Linked DNA regions of Homo sapiens: region 1 is linked to region 2. Evidence: fine-mapped expression QTL. A gene starts in region 2. The other region holds a variant in brackets. All regions are shown on one strand. Distances are between the middles of the regions. Region 1 overlaps INPP4A (inositol polyphosphate-4-phosphatase type I A). Region 2 holds the start of LYG1 (lysozyme g1).

Evidence for each region. PIP is the estimated chance that this variant, and not a neighbour inherited with it, causes the effect.
Region 1: its variant is fine-mapped to the expression of LYG1 in sun-exposed skin (GTEx, PIP 0.98).

Annotation. Positions count from the first base shown.
Region 1 is chr2:98,474,782-98,485,519 of GRCh38, reverse strand. All of the region lies in intron 1 of INPP4A (inositol polyphosphate-4-phosphatase type I A), which reads right to left. Among named protein-coding and RNA genes, the nearest start is that of INPP4A, 35 kb to the right of the region's middle. RefSeq lists an enhancer at 2,172-2,291. The variant G/A (reference allele first, on the strand shown) is at 5,850.
Region 2 is chr2:99,295,955-99,306,692 of GRCh38, reverse strand. It overlaps LYG1 (lysozyme g1), which reads left to right and starts at 5,496. Exons shown (of 7, transcript NM_174898.3): 1 at 5,496-5,643; 2 at 8,144-8,234. All of the region lies in intron 1 of LOC107985923 (a long non-coding RNA gene), which reads right to left. It also overlaps a transcript of TXNDC9 not described here.

The DNA.
Region 1 (10,738 bases), 820 kb after region 2:
TCTGACTGTGGCCAACCTAGGGCAGTAAGCTGGATATGTTAAAAAGAAAGATGATTGCCATAGTTCTCTTACTGCAGGCTTGGAAAATATAGAGAGGGAAACCCCACCCCCCACAGATACCTTAACTAAAATCAGTTCTGACTTGGATATTCTACACAGATAAGATCAGCAAGTACACAAGATTTGGCATCCTGCCTTTTCACCTGAATCTTAGACTGTGAACATATTTCACGCTGCAACCAGACCGCATGATTATAACAGGTTTTTATTTCAGTCTAAAATGTTTCTTACAAAGAAGTAACATTTCTTCAGCTCTTCAGCAGCCACGGGCCTGCAAGCAGCAAGGACCCTGCATGATCAGGATGGTCTCCACTACCACAAAAGCTGAGGTCACACTCATTTAGATCCCAACCGCCCCGCCAAGCAGATGTGCGGAGCTGGAGTTTACTCAGCTACCAGGACACACACACACTCTGTTCGCTTCAAGAGGCCAGCCAAGTGAGAGAAAAGCCACTGATTGGAAGACTGAAGCCACTACTCTCGGTGGGATCTCAGACAAGGATGCTCACTGCAGCATTACCTGTACTATAAAGGATTTTATACCATAAATTGAAAGATTAAATAGCAGCCTACAAGCCTGTCAGGGAAATGGTAAATAATGGCTCCGTCATATGTGAATACCATATAGACATTTGAAATGGAAATCAGTTTTATGACAACTTGACAAGCGAAAAAGTCAGATTCTAAGTAAGATCTACCAATATAAAGACATAGAAGCACTCACGCGGAGTGGGAGAGAGGAAAAGAACACGTATAAAAATGTTAAGCACTGGGAGATGGACACATCATGCTTTTCTGGTTTTCTTCCTCTAGACTATGTTTTACTAAACCCTTTATAGTAAGTATGCAAAATTTTAATAACTGGGGAACTGTACCATCCTTAGGTTGTTTAGTGCCTCTCTGGGGCTGAATTCATCTCAGCTGGAAGGGCTCTCCTTCCACAGGCTGCCTCGAATCCCTCACACCCTCTCAGGGCCCTGTGCATGGCTTCCCACCCCAGTCACGTGACTGCATTCTGGACTTTGAGCTCATCAGGAAAGTAACTGGGGCTTGGTCTTCCCTGACTGCAGGATCATGGGAAACAAAGATACAGTGAGCCTGACAGGGAGGAGAGGGAACCAGAACAGGCCACACAGGAGGAACGGAGATGGGAGTTCATAAGGCTTGTGGGCAACTAGGGGGAGTGGGCAGCCTCGGGAATGACCATGGGAGAGGAAGCTGAAGGCTAGCGGCTCAGTAACAACAGACTCATCCCTGCAGACAGAGTCATCAGAAGGTGATGGGACCTCAGAGACCTCTGGGGCCAGGGGTAACATGGAGTGATGCAGGGGAGGGACAGGAGTGGAGGGGATGGTAGTCACCGGTCAAAGCGAAAGAGATTCCAAGCCCACCTCTGGAGAGAGACAGGACATGCAGAGAAAGGACCTCACTCCATTTAGAGGCCTCTGGCTCTTCTGGGAGAACCAGCCATCTTTCAGTTATGTGAAGAGATGGGGTGTGGGCAGGGGCATCTGCAAGGAGGGATGGGGGTGCAGGAGCTTCTTTATGCAAAGGTGGAGGCTCAGGCAAGAGGGTGGAGAGGAAGACCGGACTTCACTAGACTGACTACAGATGCAGTCCATCTGTTGGGTGCAGCCAATGTGCAACCTTGGCTAGCCACACAGAAGAGGGTCTCCCTCTCAACCATCCATGGGAGCAGAGTAGCCAACAGGAAGGTGGGGTAGGGACAGGAAGAGAAAGGACTGAGAGCTGGTCCACGCTGCTATGTTTAGGCAGGGCTCAGAAGTAATACTAATGATGAGGTGTTTTGAGGCATGGACCACAGGGACATTCAGTGTAGGATGAACCTGCCTGAAGGAAGCCAACTCTGCAACAAAGATGGACACAGACTAGCCTGCCCTTCCCACTGGCAGTGGCGACAGATCCCACATGCAGCAAGACATTAGAAAGACAAGACCGGGGGGGAACATGATCCATCAGGACTTGGCCCCACAGCAGCCCCACCTTGCACTTGACCATCTCTGCCCCGCCTGGGGCAGCCCTGCAGCCACAAGCCCAGTTTCAAGAAATACCTGTTTCTGACCACAAGCATCACAAGAGTGAAACTAAGCAATGCTTGCTTCCTGTCTCCTAGCACGAAAACTAGTAGGACTGACTGGGTCACAAAACACAAAGAATTCGATGAATGGAAAAAATGAAAAGCAAATTTGGGGTAATGGTAACCTAGAGAGAAGGTGGGAAGGCATATGTAGTTTCAAGTGTATTGGTCATGAAAATGTCTAAAGCTGAGTTGCGATTCACTGTATTGTTATTCCTATCATTTTTCACATAAAGGACTGCCTAATAAACATTTTATTATTATAGAGTACATGCCAAAATCATTATTAGCACAGGTTGAGTATCCCTTATCTGAAATACTTGACACCAGAAGTGGTTAGGGTTTGGAATTTTTTTAAGATTTTGAAATATTTGCATTATATACGTACAGATTCAGCACACCTAATCCAAAAATCTGAAATCCAAAATGCTCCAATAAGCATTTCCTCTGAAGGTCATGTCAGTGCTAAAAAAGTGTCAGGTTTGGAAGTACTTCAAATTTTGGATTTTCAGATCAGGGATGTTCAACCTCTATTATGCTTTCACTTATTTTCAAAAAAGCAATGTAAGTATAATTTTTTCAAGTGTAAGCTTAGATCAAAAGCTTTGCATTTCTCTTAAATGCAAGAGGACACATATATCTTTTTGCATCACATCCCAGGGTTGCTCAGAGGCTCATCCCTGGATGTCAACCACACTTGCCTACTGTCAGCACTGACTGGCTGGTCGCTGGCCTCCCTGTGACAGGCCCACTGGGGAGACACCTCCATTCTGGCAGGTGTGACAAGTGGAGGGGCCATTGCACAGAGGCCCACAGCTGCCCCTCTCTGCTTTCCAGGACAGCCAGTTGCACCTGCCTCTAGGTGCCCACCTTTCTGTTGGCTGCTTTCGTTTTTAATCCCACTCTTCTTCAGACTGCCCTCCTTGCAGGGCCCCATATTCTGAACCAGGTGCAACCAATCCTAACATCCCTTGAGGCCCTGCTCTGACTGGTGCCAATAAGCTAAACCACAGCTGGCCAAGATAGGAAAAGTGATTTAACCTGCTGTCCCTCTAGGATGGGATTTTACCCAGATCTCCAGAGTCTCAGCCCAATAATGTGGGAACCACAGGTGTAAAGGCAAAGAGGAAAAAAGCAGGATACAGAAAACATTTTACAGCAAGGTGGCCCAACAGGGTCCCTCACATCACCTGCTGTGCCACTTTAACGTGGCTTCTGCTTAAATTTCAAGTTTAAAAAATTATATTTATTTTAAAGACAGGATCTTACTCTGTCAACTAAACTGGTCTCAAACTCCTTGCCTCAAGTGATCCTCCCACTGCAGCTTCCCAAAAAACTGGGATTACAGGTGTGAGCCTAAACTTGGAGCTTTTAAAGTACACAGTGTTGAGTTGTTAAGCCAGGACAAGACATCAAACAATCCAACTCCAACATGGCAAACTCGTAATGAAGGGAGAAGGAGAGGCAAAGGTGCTGCTGAGAAAACCTTTCACTAGAGAACGGAAAGCCCAGCCAGAGGTGGTGCGTGGACAGGGAGCACCCTGAAGACCAGCAAGCTAGCTGACACTCAAGGCCAGCTGAGCATCACATTTACAGGCTGTCACAGCCTCCCTGTCTTCCTGGGATTCTGCAAAACACAATTCCACAGGGAGGACAAGCACTTAGAATTCTCCCCTGGTACAAAGCCTGCTTGCTCACATTGGATCACTTGGAAACATAATAAATCCTTCCTTCCCCATTAATCTGTTACTGAGGCTCAATGTGATATAATCATTTTATATAGAGAATTCTGTCACTGAATCTTTATATCTAAAACCACTTCAGATAGCTAAAACATATGCCAGCCTTAAGCCAAATGCAGCTCCCTAAAGAAACCAGCACCCCAAAGAGACCACAGGATTATCCAAGAGCCACAGGCAACCAGAATAAAACTGGAGGAGCGAGGGTTCTGGCTGCCAAGAGTGGTCGATTTATGCGTGCCAAGGGACCAAGCCCCCACTGGTATAGGAAATGTATGCCATTTCTTTCCCCCCAGGGAATTTTCAGAGGAAGACATCCTTGCTCCACACAGGATCACACCAGGTCCACATTCCTCCAAGTCTCCTGTTCACTTCCTGGCCTCTCTGTGGGGTGAGGGATTACAATGGGCAGCAGGTGGTGACACCCTCCACCTTGAGAGGGACGTGTCAGATGCAGGAAAAGTTCACAGTGCTCTGATTAAATTATGTTTTGTTAGGACACCCCCTCCCCAGTGTTGGCATTGAAAGGTAACTAGCAGAAGAACTTGAAGCACACCTGTGTAACTCAAGGTCAGTCCCCAGGTGCTGCTTTGCTCTCTTTGGGCCTCAGTTTCCTAAACTGCACACTGGTAATGCACAGCCTGCAGCCTGAGAAGCATGTGAGAATGGAGCACGTGCAGCACCACAACTCCTTCCTGGGGCTGGAAGGGTCCAGAGTGTGCGGCACCCTGCCCCCCACTCACCCTCCACAGGCCAGCACAGGGGGAGTTTGGCTGCGGAGACGGACACACGCGCCCTGGGGCTGCAGCTGGCAAGAAGACAGGCTAGTGGAAGATTCAGTGCTCTCCGGTCTGAGGCTGCCAGCAATGCAAGGGACTGGAGACGGGCACATTCTGCCTGGCAAGGGATGGGGGCCAGGAGTGAGGGACCATGTGTGCAAATGCACGGGAGCTAGCTGGCCACCTCAGTCATTTACTCCTTCAGTGCACAGAGGGTCACCAAGGCCTGGGGCCAAGTGAGAGGACAGACACCCATAGGAGAAAGAGCCCAGACTCAGCCCTTAATGCCCAGAATGTCAGTGCAGGGGAACCACAGTCAGTGATGATGTTCCTAACACAGGTAAAATGACGACAGTCCTTTCTACAGCAAAAAGCTGCTCTGTGTCGTAAGAGCATATGATAGGGCACCAGATAAAAATCTGGTAAGTCACTCCACCTCTCTCTGAGCATCCCTTCCCTCCTCTGCAAAATGGAAATGAATAATAATTACCTCATCAGGTAGCTGGGGATTAATAAACTGATCCTAGACAGACATCTGGCCCAATGCCCAGCATATGGTAAATGCTCAGTGAGCCAACCTCTCAGGGCTGAGTTCCCCACCCACCCAAGACAGTCAGAACCAGGAGCCCCTGGCAAGGCTCCACCCAATGCCCTACAGAAACAGAAAAAAAGCTTTAGTTTCAGCAGAGGCTGAGAAGGCAGGCCTCTGGGGCTGGCAGGGAGGGTGTCAGCCAGAGGCTCCGTGTCTAGCGGGCAGCAGAGGAGGTGCTGGCAAGGACAGCAAGCTGGCTGGAAGCCCTGACTGCAGGAAACAGACCTCAAGCAGCACTCCCTGGGGGCAGGACCCTGCCATTCTGTGCTGTTTGGGGGCAGTTTCTAAAGCCTTAAGAAAATAGCTTCCTGTCTCAGGCTTTCTAGGAAGTCACAAACTAGGTGTCTGGGAGGCAGTTTTAGGTAAGTGCACAGCCCAAGGGAGAGCTGACCCCTGTACCAGACAGAGACCCTGACAGAAGGGACAGCCCAGGGCCAGGCACAAAGGGCTCCAGCTCAATCGAAGTTGGTCAAACAGGGACAAAGGAGACAGTTTTCTTCAAGGACAGGAAGAAATCTGTTGCTATCCTGTGTACCCCGAATTCCATTTGCAACCATTAGTTGTTTCAGAAAAGCTGGTGC[G/A]TGTCAGATGTTTTATCTATGAGACAATGATTTCCCAGCACCTGACCACACTTTCTGTGTCACAGAAACTGTGGGCTGCAGGTTATACGTGGGTTCTGTGCCTCCTGGCATACCTGGAAAGATCCTGATGCAGCCCACACTGTCAGTTCATAAATAGTAGGGTCAAAACTCTGTTTCCCATGGCTGGAGCAAGCTGCTTCAAACCAGCCATCCCCATGCAGAGATGCCACTGACTATGTATTTATTGCTAACTGTCTTCTAATTATGATAGAGCAGTCAGCGCCTGGCTTCTAAGACACCTTGCTCAACTCATCAAAGTAGGGTAGCCTCGGGATATCTCACGAAGCACACACAGGAGAAGTTCCCACCCAAGGCACAGCAGATACCCCCCATCAGCACCACTGCAGCCAAATGGGGACAGGAGCACCTCCCCACACTTCTAAAATTAGAAGTGCCACCAATTAGCACCAAAATAAGTAGCCTAGTTTGGGGAAGGTGATAAAAATCAGCGAATAATATCTTGAGTGGGGAGTGGAACAGGAACAAGCACTCTAGGGCAACTGGAAGTGTGGTCTGTGAACTGGCAGTAGCAGTACCACCCAGGAGCCGGGAGGAAGTGCCCGACCTATGAAGGCTGACTCCCTGTGGGTAGGGCCCAGTATCTGCATTGAACAAGTCTTCTAGGTGACTGCTAGGCATTCAAGTTGGAGTAGCTATCTCTAGCCTGCCATCTTCGAAAGATGCCTGAAGACTTACACAATTATTTCCAGTTAAGTCCTAACAATCTACAAAAAAACCGGACCTCTTTCTTTTCAAAAAACAGAAAAATAGCACCACCACAGAAAGTCATGGGTGCGGGCTGCATTCATGCTCAGCTAGAACTGAATGCAGAGTAAGTCAGGACAGAATAGGACAGACACATACCTGCAACCTTCTCGGAAATCCATCACACCCTTCTACCCTCACCCCCTCAACCTTCCTACTCCCATTCACCCTATTCTCCCCAGCTGGGGCAGGGACCCTCTTCACAGCCACATTGGTAACCATCAAAAAGGTCAAAAGAGATCACCATGATTTGTTGCAAAGAAAGTCGGGGGAGGGAGTGCCCAGAGTTAACTCCACTAACTAGGGATCAGGGGTGTGCTCTGCCACCCCTACCCCCACAGCCCTGCCTCGCCTTGACTCTAACAGCAGCGCAGGTCTGGTGGAGAGGCACTCAGCTGGACTGCAAGGCTGGCTCAGCTTCTCACACCCTGGACCTCAGATCGGCAGAGAAGCCATCCAGGAACAGAGCCTTGTAAAAGCTCCCTGGACTTGGAGCAGTCCTGGTCCCAAGCGACAGGAATCCTCCTCTCTGGTGGCCACCTCCCTCATCAGTCATGACGAGGCCTCCACCAAGAGCAGGGCCTGCCTGAGGCTGTGCTCCTGGGTGGGAGGGAGGACACTGTGACTTAAACACAGTGTGGCTGAGAAAGAAAAAGGAAACACCCGCAAATTAAAGTGCGCTCTATTTTAGCTTTAAACACACATCCCTCCCACCTACGGCAGTGTCCAAAATAGCACATCCTATTTTAGGGAGATCAGAGGCAGTTCCTCAATAGGCTACAAAATAGACCTGGAGTTTGGAGACCAGCACCGCACAATAACAGTAGGTTGTAGGCCGCAGGGACTGCACTCGCACTGAATCCACCTCCCACTCCAGTCCCATTTTAAAGGCCAGAAGACCTAGGCCTCAAGAGCTAGCACGGCTGCTGGTGGTCCTCCTGACTCAAATTCTGCCCTCTCCATTTCCAATCCATGCCATGTGGCTCTCTTCCCACAGCAGGGCCCAGGCTGTCCACATTAGAGGGGCCCTTAGCCTCTCCTCCCTCATCCAACCGCTGTCTCCTGGGCAAGACCCACACAGGGCAGGGAGAGGTAAAAGGCAGGGTGAGGTAGAGGGAGAAAGCCTCTGTTCATCAGACTCCTGGACTCTGGGTTGAACAAGGATAGTCACTAACGGAGGGACTGAGACAGCCATGGTCTTGTTCACTCACAAAGAGAGAGCAGTTTCTACAAGACCAACGTTGACAGTTCCTGGAGATACAGGGCAGGAGAGAGGCAATCAACAGCCAAAATGGCCCAAGACTCGCCGACATTGAGGCTCTGGTTCATCCTCTGTTGTTAGGCTGTGGTCTGGTAACATGGTGTCCAAGTATCTCAGAGAAAGGCTGTAAAGCTGCCCCTAGAATCTGGAAACGGGTCAGGAACAGTCACTTGCTCAGTACTAGGACTCCCATGGCTATGGTTTCCCTACCAGGCAGGAAGACCAAGCTGTACCACCACACCATTCAGGACAAAGAGCCAAGAAGCGTGCCTGAAGCAGGCAGCTCAGGGAGACGGGACGGCGGGGGAGCTGCACACAGCATGCTGTGCATGGCCCCAGAGCCAGACCATCCGGGCTCCAACCCCAACTGCCGCTCACCCGCCACGCTACACGTCCCCAGGGAGAACTCATTTCACCTTCTGCTCCTCAGTCTCCTGCTCCTGAAATGGGTGTTACAGAATCATCTACTTCATGGGGTTACTGCAAGAATCAGATGACTTAATCCCTCTAAATGTGCCCAGTGCACAAAAATGCTACTTAAGTATTTGCCACTATTACTACTACCACTCCTGCTAAGCCCATCTGACAATCAGATACCCCAGAGGCTCTTCTAGCCATCCAGAAACAGGGGGATGGAGGCACTCAGGCCATGCCGCTGGATCAAGGACAGCAAGGAAGGGGCTGTGAGTACCCAGAGAACAGGGAACACTTATAACGGCAAACAAGGCCTTGAAGAAGGTTAATTACTGTTAAAAGTACAAACTTAACCCGCTATCGTCACAGGCCAGGAAGAGAACGGGCTGGAGGGCCCCATGAGAATTTCTGGAAGACAGGAAGGGAGGCAAGGCTATCTTGGCCATTCTCAGGTGATGGTGAATGAGGCAAACCACTGTGGAAACCATGAGCGCAGAGGGAGGTGGGCCCTGCTGGACACGCTTCAGAATGCCCATCACTCCCCTCTGAGCCAGGAGAGGTCTCCAGGAGCGCCACCCCTCCCCCAAGCAGGGCTCCTCCCCACACACACCCCAGGGCTGGGTCCCAGCACCCCAGCTGAGAGCCTCCCTGACTGTGGCTGGAGACCAGATACCTAAAGGGGGCTTGGTGAAGGAGAGCTCTTCCCCAGAGCGAGGGGCCCACCCTGGAGGAGAAAGTCCCTGCTCTGAGCTCCTGGGTGTGAACCCTCCCGAGGGACAGCAAACAGGGCCATTACTGCTCAAATGTGGAGCTTAGCATGTCTTAGTTTGACTGGGCATCCAGCCAGGCATTACTTTAATATACAACCCTAAAGCTTAGTCAAACTATCACTGGCTTGTGTGTCCTGGCAACACCTGGCCCTAAAACTGGGAATCACCTAGCACCAAATAAGAGAAATTAAAATTCCAGGAACAATCGAAACTCAAATTTTAAAAGTTTCTACAATGTGAATCTTCATTATCCTATGTACCCATTCTAATTAAATTCTTCAAAAAGTTTTGGGATGGTAAAAATTTCATGTGGCAAGTCTGACTCATTAAGGAGAAAAACATAGGCAAAATCACATTGCAAAGACTTGTTACCACAAAGCTATTTGGAGTTGATTTCAGTAAAATTCTGCATCAAATCTGGATTACCTGTGGGTGGATTAAACATTTGTAGATTAGCCTTGATAAAAAAATGAGAAGATAGTGCATTTGTGGAAAAAAATTTAAAATAAAAACCATTATAACAGCATTCCACACTGTTATTTAAAATTAGTGGCAGGCAAGGTGGACACACAGGCTCCCCCCGCCCCAGAGGCCCATCCCTGCCCACTATGGGTAGTACTGCTCCCCTCCTCCCAAAGCCCCCACCCCAGGTGAGAAAAGCAGGTAGAAGGGAGAGGGTGGCTGAACCCCAGCCCTGCCCACACAGCCCAGCATGCCCCAGCAAACAGCAGGAGACTACAACCATTGTTGGTCATGCAATGTAATACTGACGCCTAAAGCAAAAAAACAAAGTATCTGTAAATGTTCAATGTCCTGCTAAATTTTACAAGTAATTTCAGCCAGATTAAATGTATTTTGCACTATATTCTGACTACTTCTGTGTTACCCATAGTTTTGCTTTCCTCCAAGGCTTATGCTCCCTCTCCTACCTCATCTGTCATCCTGGTTGGTCAAGAGACAAATTTAAATAGCTGAGAAAGAAAGATGACCTCAGAACTTGAAACACCGCCCATGGGGTTTTAGAGGTCTCTCTTAATTTGTAAATCTAATGGGCTAATAACTCCCTGGCTTAAATCCCCTCTGTGGCTCTCGGCACACACAGAATGCAGCATGAAGTTGCACCCAGGATGGATCTCCTGGCCCTCCTCTGTCTCCCAAGCTTCCTAAGTACCACACTCACAAGCTGCTCCCGACAGCATCTCACAAGTGCCCTCTCTATGCCTTTGCTCAGCTGTCCGCTCCACTTAAGAGTGCCCCTCCTGTTCTTGTCTGCTTGACAATTTGTACTCATGCTACATGACCAATTTAAACAGCAATTTCCCTGTAAAGTTTCACCCACTTCCAGACAGAAATAAATACCCTCTGCTTATTGTGACATGGCCCTTTCTGTTGCCACAAAGAAAAAAAACTTCTGATACAGTGTACACCCTTGTCTCCTGTAGCTCCTTAGGAGAAGGGCCTAAGTCATCTTTAACTCTTCATCTTTAACAAAGCTGAGCCACTGCAGGAGCCCCAAATAAGCTTTTATTAAGTGATTAATTAAAAATAACTTTTGTATCCCCCAGGGCCCCAGATGGGTTTGGTGCATAAGAAAACTTATTTGAAGATGTTTTTATCCA
Region 2 (10,738 bases):
ATGATCGGCTGGATGATGCTATTTTACAGACACCCAGGACCTACAGCATGTTCCAAATGTCTACATCAATAAGTACTTTGAGAGGGTTCATATGAAGTTTCCAGGAAGGATTCCTTCCCAAGTTGTGGAAAGGGTGCATTTCACGACTGAAAGAGGGAGCCCCCTCCCTCACCACACCCTGTGCCCCAGCTCAACTAAGCAGCTTGATTTTCCCCAAACACAGCGCCATTCTTTGCATTAGGCCTTCCTACAGGCTGTTTGCTTTTTATCTAACCCCTCAGGGACAGGGGCTGTGTCTCAGAAACTTGTGCTATGAGCCACCATGTCCCTGGCTTGTCCTTTCAGACCTCCTGGATCCTCACTTTTTCAAGAAAACGTTCACACTTGTCTCAAAGTCTTATTCTTGACTCTGTCATGCTGAGTGGGTTCAATGTCCATTTAGATGGCTGGATTCAATTCTCTGGTCTCTCCTTTTTTGTGTGTTTTTTACTTATAAGAAATCATGAGGCAGGGTGTGGTGGCTCATGCCTGTAATCCCAGCACTTTGGGAGGCTGAGGCCGGCGGATCATGAGGTCAGTAGATCGAGACCATCCTGGCTAACACGGTGAAACCCCGCCTCTACTAGAAATACAAAAAATTAGCCGGGCATGGTGGCAGGCTACTGTAGTCCCAGCTACTCGGGAGGCTGAGGCAGGAGAATGGTGTGAACCCAGGAGGCGGAGGTTGCAGTGAGCTGAGATCACGCTCACTCCATCTGGGTGACAGAGCGAGACTCCGTCTCAAAATAAAAAGATATTATATATTTTGTAAAAGTTTTATTTTTAATTTATACATAAGAATTGCATAGATTTATGGGATAAGTTGTGTAATGATCAAATCAGGGTATTTAGCATATCCATCACCTCAAATTGATGAGAATACTAAATAGCTTCCCTTTTAGATATTTTGTAGTATACACTACAATATTGTTAAATATAGTCACTGCAGTGTGCAATAGGACACCAGAACTTACTCCTCCTATCTAGCTGTAATTTTGCATGCAACCAATCTCTCCCCATTCCTCCCCAGCCTCTAGTAGCCACTATTCTGCTCTTTACTTCTATGAGATCGCCTTTTTTTTTTCTTGAGATGGAGTCTTGCTCTGTTTCCCAGTGCAGTGGCGGGATCTTGGCTTACTGCAACCTCCACCTTCCAGGTTCAAGCAATTCTCCTGCCTCAGCCTCCTGAGTAGCTGGGATTACAGGTGCCCACCACCATGTCCGGCTAATTTTTGTACTTTTAGTAAAGACGGGGTTTTACCATGTTGGCCAGGCTGGTCTCGAACTCCCGACTCAGGTAATCTGCCTGCCTCGGCCTCCCAAAGTGCTGGGATTACAGGCGTGAGCCACCACACCTGGCCATTACACATGATCAACTTTTTTAGATTTCACAAATGGGTGATTTTGTCTTTCTGTGCCTTATTTCACTTAATGTCCTTTAGGTTGATCGTGTTGCTGCAAATGACAGGATTTCATGCTTTTTAATGACAAAATATTATTCCATTATGTGTATATACTGCATTTTCTTTATCCACTCATGTGTTGATGGACACTTAGGATGATTCTGTGTCTTGGCTATTACAAATAATGCTGCAGTCAACATGGGAGTGCATATTTCCCTTTGACATATCCATTTTCTTTGGATACATACCCAGCAGTGAGATTTCTGGGTCATATGCCACTTCTACTTTTAATTTTTTGAGGCATCTCCATACTGTTTTCCATAATGGCTAGATTCGTGTATATACCCACCTAGAGTGTATAAGGGCTCCATTTCTCCATATCTACACCACAATTTGTTATTTTTTCTCTTTAAAAACATTTTTAGATTGAGGTGTACACGTGTAGGTTTGTTACATGGGAGTTAAAACATAATCCTTTCTTTTTCTTTTTCATAAATTGAGACAGGATGTTGCTATGTTGCCCAGGCTGGTCTTGAAGTGCCTTGACCTCCTAAAGTGTTGGAACCACAGACGTGAGCCACTCCACCCAGCCTAAAACTTCATCTTCTTTGGTAAATGTGCTTTCATCTTCAGCATTCCAGACTTAGTACCATCCTCCCAGGCACTTATGTCCTCTTCTTTGCTCTCATCCTTGGCGTCTTGTCCCAAACTGAGTCCTGTCAATTCCACCTCTAAAATAGATCTGTAATATCTTTCCTTTTTCTCTTAGCCACTTTCATGCTGCTGATAAAGACATACCTGAGACTGAGCAATTTACAAAAGCAAGAGGTTTAACAGATTCACAGTTCCACTTGTCTGGGGAGGCCTCACAATCATGGCGGAAGGTGAAAGGCATGTCTCACATGGCAGCAGACAAGAGAAGAGTGAGAGCCAAGTGAAAGGGGTTTCCTCTTATAAAATCATCAGATCTCATGAGACTTATACACTACCATGAGAACAGTATGGGGGAAACTGCCTCCATGATTCAATTGTCTCCCACTGGGTCCCTCCCACAACACAAGGCAATTATGCAAGCTACAATTTGAGATGAGATTTTGGTGGGGACAGAGCCAAATCATATCATTCCACTTCTGACCCCTCCCAAATCTCATGTCCTCACATTTCAAAACCAATCTTGCCTTCCCAACAATCCCCTGAAGTCTCAGGTGCCCCCACCACGCCTGGCTAATTTTTTTGTATTTTTAGTGGAGACGGGGTTTCACTGTGTTAGCCAGGATGTTCTCTATCTCTTGAGCTCGTGATCCGCCTGCCTGGGCCTCCCAAAGTGCTGGGATTACAGGCGTGAGCCACCGTGCCCGGCCGGGGTTTCTTCTTATAAAATCATCAGATCTCTTGAGACTTATTCACTACCAGGAGAACAGTATGGGGGAAACTGCCTCCATGATTCAATTGTCTCCCACTGTGTCCCTCCCACAATGCAAGGGAATTATGGAAGCTACAATTTGAGATGAGATTTCAGTGGAGACACAGCCAAGCCATAGCCCCGTCACTCTAGTCCAACCATCATCTCTCTTCTGGTCTTCTGTGAAGTCTCCCGAGTCACTCTGGCTCACCTCCAATGCAATCAGCAGCCAGGGGACACTTTTTAAAACATAAATCTGACCGTCATGTGCCTGCGGAGTGTCCCGGAGGCTGGATGGAGAACGACCTCCTCAGCTTCTAGGATTCTTAGGGTGGGGACCCAGGTGCAGCAGGTGAGGAGGTGGAAGTCATCATAGAGAGGCAGGGTTTGTGAGAAGCCATTTCGTCTCTGTGGAGCCTTTGCCAGGCAACATGCTGGCTGCTGCCCAGGAGAACCTCCCAGGATGCTAACATGGCCCTCTGGGCTGATGACAGGGTGCTTTTGTAGGTGGAGCTGGGCATCCCCAGATTTCCCCACACTGTAATACCTTTTAATTGTTGGTATGTGCTAGAGCTTGGTGGAAAAAATAAAATGGATGAGTTCCATTTTGGGGGTCAGGATAGAGTTTTTAATGGGTGCATTAGTTCTCTTTTTACCCCAACTCTGCCAACAACCGAGAGGAACCCAGTGTTCTCACACTCCCCTCCCAGAGTTAAAGTTCAGGAACTCCCTGGGTGTCCAAATCTGGACCCTTGCTCACAGTGCCCTGCCTTGTGGTCTCACCATCTCAGTCACAAGTAGAGAAAAACAAAATCTTCTTTTTTTTTTTTTTCAGATGGAGGCTTGCTCTGTGGCCCAGGCTGGAGTACACTGGCATGATCTTGGCTTACTGCAACCTCTCCCTCTTGGTTCAACTGATTCTCCTGCCTCAGCCTCCCGAGTAGCTGGGATTACTGGTGTGTGCCACCATGCCTGGATAATTTTTGTATTTTTAGTAGAGATGGGGTTTCGCCATGTTGGCCAGGCTGGTCCGAACTCCTGACCTCAAGTGATCCACCTGCCTCGGCCTCCCAAAGCGCTGGGATTACAGACGTGAGGCTCTGTGCCCGGCTGAGAATAACAAAATCTTAACCCTCAATGTCTGCACTGGGGATGCAGAGTGAGTGACTTCCAAAAAGTCATAAATACGCTTTAAATCATTCATTTACTCATTCCGTAAACATGTACTGAATACCCCTTATGTGCCATAAGGAATACAGGAGAAAAAAGCCTTTGTTTTTGTTCTCAAGACAACAACAAACCAAAGTGCTGTAGGTGCTATGGTAGAAATATCCACATGTTGCTTGAAACACAAGGAACACACGTCTAACCTGGGGCCCAGCATTGGAAGCCCAGTCCAAATCTTGCTGGGTGAGGTTGTAGGAATTCTTCAGTCATTGACTGATTCAACAAAGATTTACTGAACACTTACAGTGTGCCAGGCTGTTATCTGGGCACTGAAGACTCAGTCTTATAAATGAAGTAGCCAGATTCACAGCTCTCACGGAGCTTGTGTTTGAGTTGTGGTATGGGGAGGGAGCTAAGGCAGGGGATGCAGAAGAAACAGACTGTATACCAGTCAGCCGATAAGCAAGCCATTGATTCCACGTGTTTTACTGAGTGTCTAATATGTATCATGCAGAGTGTTGCATGCTGGTATTATAAAGACGAATGAGACACAGCCCCTGTCCCTGAGGGTTTAGATAAAAAGGAAAGATCCTGTAGGAATGCCTAGTGCAAAGAATGGCGCTGTGTTTGGGGAAAATCAAGCTGTTCAGCTGAGCTGGGGCACAGGGTGTGGTGAGGGAGGGGGCTCCCTCTTTCAGTCATGAAATGCACCCTTTCCACAACTTGGGAAAGAATCCTTCCTGGAAACTTCATATGAACCCTCTCAAAGTACTTATTGATGTAGACATTTGGAACACGCTGTAGGTCCTGGGTGTCTGTAAAATAGCATCATCCAGCCGATCATCTCTCCCCACATTGCTGAACTGAGGACATGTGAACTGGTATCTCTCGGTGGTTCAGAACAGGGGCCAGCAACCTACGGCCCTAGGGCCACCACCTGTGTAGTAAAGAAAGTTTTTTTTTTGGAACACAGTCTTGGCCATTCATTTAAATATTATCTATGATCACTCTCATGCTACAATGTCAGAGGCATTATAAAGACCACGTAGCCCAAAAACCTGTCTGGGTCTGTAAGAAAAAGCTGCCAACCCCTGGTCTAGGCGCTCTGCTTACCTGAAATACAAACCAATAATGAGTTTCTGACACACCAAGTTCAATTCCCTCCCTCCCTTCCTTCCTTCCTTCTTCCTTTTCTTTCTTCCTTCCCTTCCTCCCTTCCTCTTCCCTTCCTCCCTTCCCCTTCTCACTCTCTCTCTCCTTCTCACTCTCTCTCTCTTTCTCTCTCTCTTCCTTCCTTGTTTTCTTACCTAACCCACATTCCCAGAAAATGATGTGAATAAAGACAAGTGTTGGACCTCAATGTGTCAAAGTTAAACTACAACTAGGATCTGCCTTCTGAGGTATGGCAAGAAACAAATTGGTTAATGTTTGCAAAATGCCAGGACATTCTCGAATAAAAGGCCCTATATAAGTTCGGAGTATTTATAATAATTATGATTATTATTATAATTTATGAGATGTCATAAATCTCTCCAAAATAGGATGAGATGAACACTTTTAACAAGAGAACAGGACTCTATATAAATCGCTGTGGGCTCACCACCTCTAAGGAGGAGCACTGACTGAAGACAGGTGAGTGTGAAGCAGAGGCATGGATCTTACACTCGGGCTTATTGAGGATGAAAATCCAGTGTATGGTGATCAGTTGGCAATGATTGTGTCTCTGCTGCATAAGAAATATTGGACTCAGGCGAAACTTAAGGACCTTGCAAAGAAAACCCAAGTTTGAAAAGATTTGTAGATGATAGAATAATTTTTCCTGTTCATTACAACACTCATCAAAATTTAGATATCTTTTAATGCAAGTATGTCATTACTTTTGGATTTGTGAGCATGTGCAAATCGAATAATGGGAGAAAAGAAATGTGTGTGCACTTAACTGTAGCTGTAATAGGGCCAAATGCGACGTCATATTTGTTAACTGAAAGCCAAAAGACTAAGGTGTTTGTATTTTGCCAGACGGTAAATCCCTTGCCTGCCCTCATGGGCAGTCTTGCCAATGCTACATTAACCCATAGACCATGAGTATTGGTTCTATAACAATCTTATTTTCTCTGCAAGCTGTGTAAGAACTAAGGCCAACATGTCTAACAGCCTCGGCTAACAGACTAAAAAGACAGATACGCCTCTAGAGTCCATAGACGGAACAGAGGGGCCAAGTCTCCCTGATTTGCTCTGTGCAGAAGGAAACGTTCACGGGGAAATCTCCAGCATAGGATGATCCTTCCTGGAGTTCTGAACTCTCAAAAACGCAAATGGGAAAAGCAGGCACAGAGGACGCACTGAGAGAAGGAACTCCCTTCCAGCTCACAGTGTCTCTATGCAGGGAAGATTTGCCTGCCCAGAGGGAAGAAAATGATCAAACTTTCAGAGGTCTTCTAGGCTGGTAATTATTGATTACAATCCAAATTCAGTGAATAGGTATTTTCACAGGCCATGTGAAGGTGCAGCTCTACGCAGCGTAACAGCTTAAAATGAGCCTTCCTGTTGCTGCCCTATATTTTTGCTCTAAAAAGTTGTATTTTTCTCAAAAAAAAAAAGATCTTAGTGGCAGAATAATTTTATATTATTTTATATTTGTGACTACATTGCTATTACTATTTTAATTTTAGGCCTGTTGGTGCATAGCAATCTGTGAGGCAATGGGCTGGAGTGTTGCTGTACGTGCATGTGTGTGTGTGTACGTGTGTGTGTGTACGTGTGTGTGTATATATGTAGGGAGGGAGAAGATTAGAATAGCAAGAAGAGGATGAGTACGACATGATGCTACTGGTAAGGCCTTTAAGAAATTTAAAAACTTAAACATTTTAAAAATGGAATAAAATAAATATTTAAAAATTTTAAAAAAACAAAAATTAAAAAAATTAAAAAGTTAAAATAATAAAAAATTAAAAATAATTTTAAAACAGGCCAGGTGTTGGTGGTTCCCAGCACTTTGGGAGGCTGAGGCAGGCAGATTGCTTGAGCCCTGGAGTTTGAGACCAGCCTGGCCAACATGGCGAAACCCCGTCTTTACTAAAAATACAAAAATTAGCTGGGCGTGGTGGCACAGGGCTGTAATCCCAGCTACTCAGGAGGCTGAGGCAGGAGAATCACCTGAGCTCAGGCAGGTCGAGGGTGCAGTGAGCCGAGATCACAGCACTTCACTCCAGCCTAGGTGACAGTCAGACTATGTTTTGAAAAAAAAAAAATTAAAACAATTTTAAAAATTAAAGAGTAATCTAATGAGACATTCTTACAGGCTTATAATGGTGAGATGATTCCACAATTTTGGGCCACTGCACTCCCACCTGGGAGACAGAGTGAGACCTTGTCTCGATTAAAAAAAAAAAAAAAAGAAAAAAAGAAAAAGAAAAAGAAAAAACAAAAAGAAAAGAAAAAGAAAAAAACCCAGGGGCTGGGCGCGGTGGCTCATGCCTATGATCCCAGCATTTTGGGAGGCTGAGGTGGGTGGATCACCTGAGGTCAGGAGTTCTCAACCAGCCTGGCCAACATGGTGAAACCCCATCTCTACTAAAAATACAAAAATTAGCTGGGCGTGGAGTGCCTGTAGTCTCAGCTACTCAGGAGGCTGAGGCAAGATAATCACTTGAATTCAAGAGGCGGAGGTTGCATTGAGCTGAGATCGCACCACTGCACTCCAGCCTGGGCGACAGAGTGAGACTTTGTCTCAAACAAAACAAAGCAAAACCCAACAAAACAAAAAGTAATTAAAATTAAAATTAAAAAATTAAAAAAAGAAAGGCCTGTTGGCACACAATGAGTAGGTAGACACAGAGACATGTTAGCAATAAACAAGGGTGACAACACAGCTTAGAGCAGGAGACCATGCCTAATGTGGATGCATACAGGAGTTCTCAGTTCTCTCAGGATTAGATGGGGACACCACAATGGGGCAGGGGCACCTTCATTGGGCACGTTGAGGTGTTAATACGTCACATTTCTGGGCTGGATGGAGGGCCCCAATGACCTGCAATGATACTGTTCAAGGTAAAGATTGAGAGCATTCATGGAAAAGTTTCTAAGGTGAGAAAACCATAAGACCAAAGATACCTGTTTCTACCTTTTCTAGAAAAATTGATGAACTGAAGAAGACATGGTCCATTATGCCTTACAAACTTACACAGTGCTTTGGGAATTCCAAAGTACTCAGTGGAGAGAGGGTGAGTAGAGGAAGATGTCCCCATCAAAGCCACCAGGAACATGAGGTAGCTCCTGAGGGATGCTCTGGTTGTCAGTTTCCAGTGTGCCTGGCAGGCCTGTTGCCCCAGCTTGTTGACACCCCCTTGCTGTTTGTTACTATTTTGCTCTCTGGGAAGGGAGAAGAGGGATGCTACCATAAACATTGTGCTTGACATCATGACCACTGTGCTGCCTTGGTCTGACATCTTCATAATGGTTTTAAGCAGGGAGCCACAGGGGAATTAACAAATGAGTCATAGGGAACTGACAGACACTCTTTGAGCACACCCGAGTGATGTCTCAACAATCTCTTCTAAACACAGAGTACTTTTCGTCACTTGTAAAGTTGGGCCATAGAGTTTGGGTTGCTTCAATATGCTGTATTTATGGACAAAATGACATTGTTCATCCATTTAAGAATTCCAAGCTAGGTGTGGTGGCTTGAGCCTGTAACCCTACCTACTCAGGAAGCTGAGGTGGAAGGATCACTTGAAGCCTGGAGTTCAAGACCAGCCTGGGCAACATAGTGAGACCCATTTCTACATAAAAACTAAAAAATTATCTGGGCATGGTGGCATACACCTCTAGCCCCAGCTACTTGGGAGGCTAAGGTGGGAGTATCACTTGAGCCCAGGAGGTCAAGGCTGCAGTGAGCCGTGATCGTGCCATTGCACTCCAGCCTGGGTGACAGAGTAAAACTCTGGCTCTAAGAAAAAAAAGAAAAATTCCATTGTCACTTCTTGCTCTTCCCTGATGAAATTGAAAAACTTTACCTTGATGACCTGGTCCCAGGAGCAACTAGAAAGTAATTCTGTGTTCCCATTAAGTGGCACATGTATTTACATAGACTCTTTCATTAAAGTGACTTCTCAACACAGATATTTAGTTCCAAGCATGGAAAATACGGTAGCTCTCCTGTTACAATAAAAGCTGAGTCCTTCCACTTGGGTTTCCAAGAGGAAGTATTTTTTCTTTCCTGGAAAAGCAGCAAAAAGAGTGAAATACCCTGGGTGGAGCATTTGAATGTGAGCAGTGCTTTTTCCTGAAGGGTCCTTCCATAAAGCCAGTGATGCACTTTCATGAGACCATGAGCTTTTCCTATACCCAAGCAGCTCTTTGTCCATTCTTTTCTCCTGGGATTGGTTGTCCTCTCTTGTTTACTGCTGGAGGCTCAGGATGCTGAATAAATGACTCCTGTTGGGTGATTAAATCTGAGCGTTCCTGCAGACCCAGCTAAGATTCCAGGTCCCTGAATCTTTTTGGTGTTGGGACTGACCATGACATTTTGTGCTCAACTAAGCAAAATCGGACAGACCATCTCAATGTTGTAGAGAGAATAACAAAAAGCATGACTGCAACTGAAGGGCATATGCCCCCTCAGTTTAAGAAGACAGAAATCGAATAACTTCCTTTTTCTTTTTTGAGACAGGCTCTTGCTCTGTTTCCCAGGATGGAGTGCAGTGGTGTGATCATAGCTCACTGCACCCTTGACCCTCTGGGCTCAAGCAGTCCTCCTGCCTCAGCCTCCCAAGTAGCTAGGACTACAGGTGTATGCCACCACACCTGGCTTCAAATGACTTCCTTAAAGCCTCTCCATCTTGAGATGTGATCTCTTCCTGGGTGTTTGAAAGAAACAACCCATAAGGTTAACCTCAAAACAAAAGAGATGAGAGAAGCATTATGAAAGTACCAAGTGCCTTGTTTATATGCACATTCCTACATGTAATGACAGTAATAATTCAAAATGCTAGGCTGCCAGGCTCTGCTGACTGGGGCAATGATGACATACACCCTGGAGTGGCAGGGCTTGGTGGGAGGCGCTTTGGAGGCAAAGGTCCAGAAACTCTACCATTCCCTGAGGTTAACAGCAAACTATCCTTGGTGGTATTTGTGTATTGGTTTGGTAGCCAGTAGGAGAACCAGGGCTGTTTGTACTCATGGAAGGTGATTAGGGGAATGGTTGGGATAAGAGAGAGAGAGAGCACATGAGCGGGTGCTCCATGTTGGCCACGTGTTCATTCTCCAGTCTTGTGAGCACCTCATGAGTTCAATCCTGGGACCCCTGCCCATGAGCCAGCTTCTTGGGGATTTGCTGGTGGAGGTAGCTCCATTCTCCCTGGGCTCTGGTCCAGGTTTGTTGCCGCATTGGGGTTTTACAGAGGGGGAATGGGGAACATGGCTCAAGGTGATAAAGGGGGTCTGTGATTCCAGGCTGGGGTTAGAGCAGTGGGAAACGTCTTCCAACCAGTGTACATTCCAGGGCACTGAGGAAAGCGTGGTCTTTCCTCAAACCTGAAGAAGAAGGGACCTAAATTCCAAGAAGTCACCAATACAAAATTCTCCTTTTGATAATGGAGATAATAAAAAGGCTCTTGGGATGAGGTATGGGCATCAGAAATTTGCTTTTCAGGGTCTGGAGCCAGGTCAGTATGTTTCTTGGTGGTTGAGATTCAAAGTGTCTTGCCTTCTTGAAATAAAGTAGTTA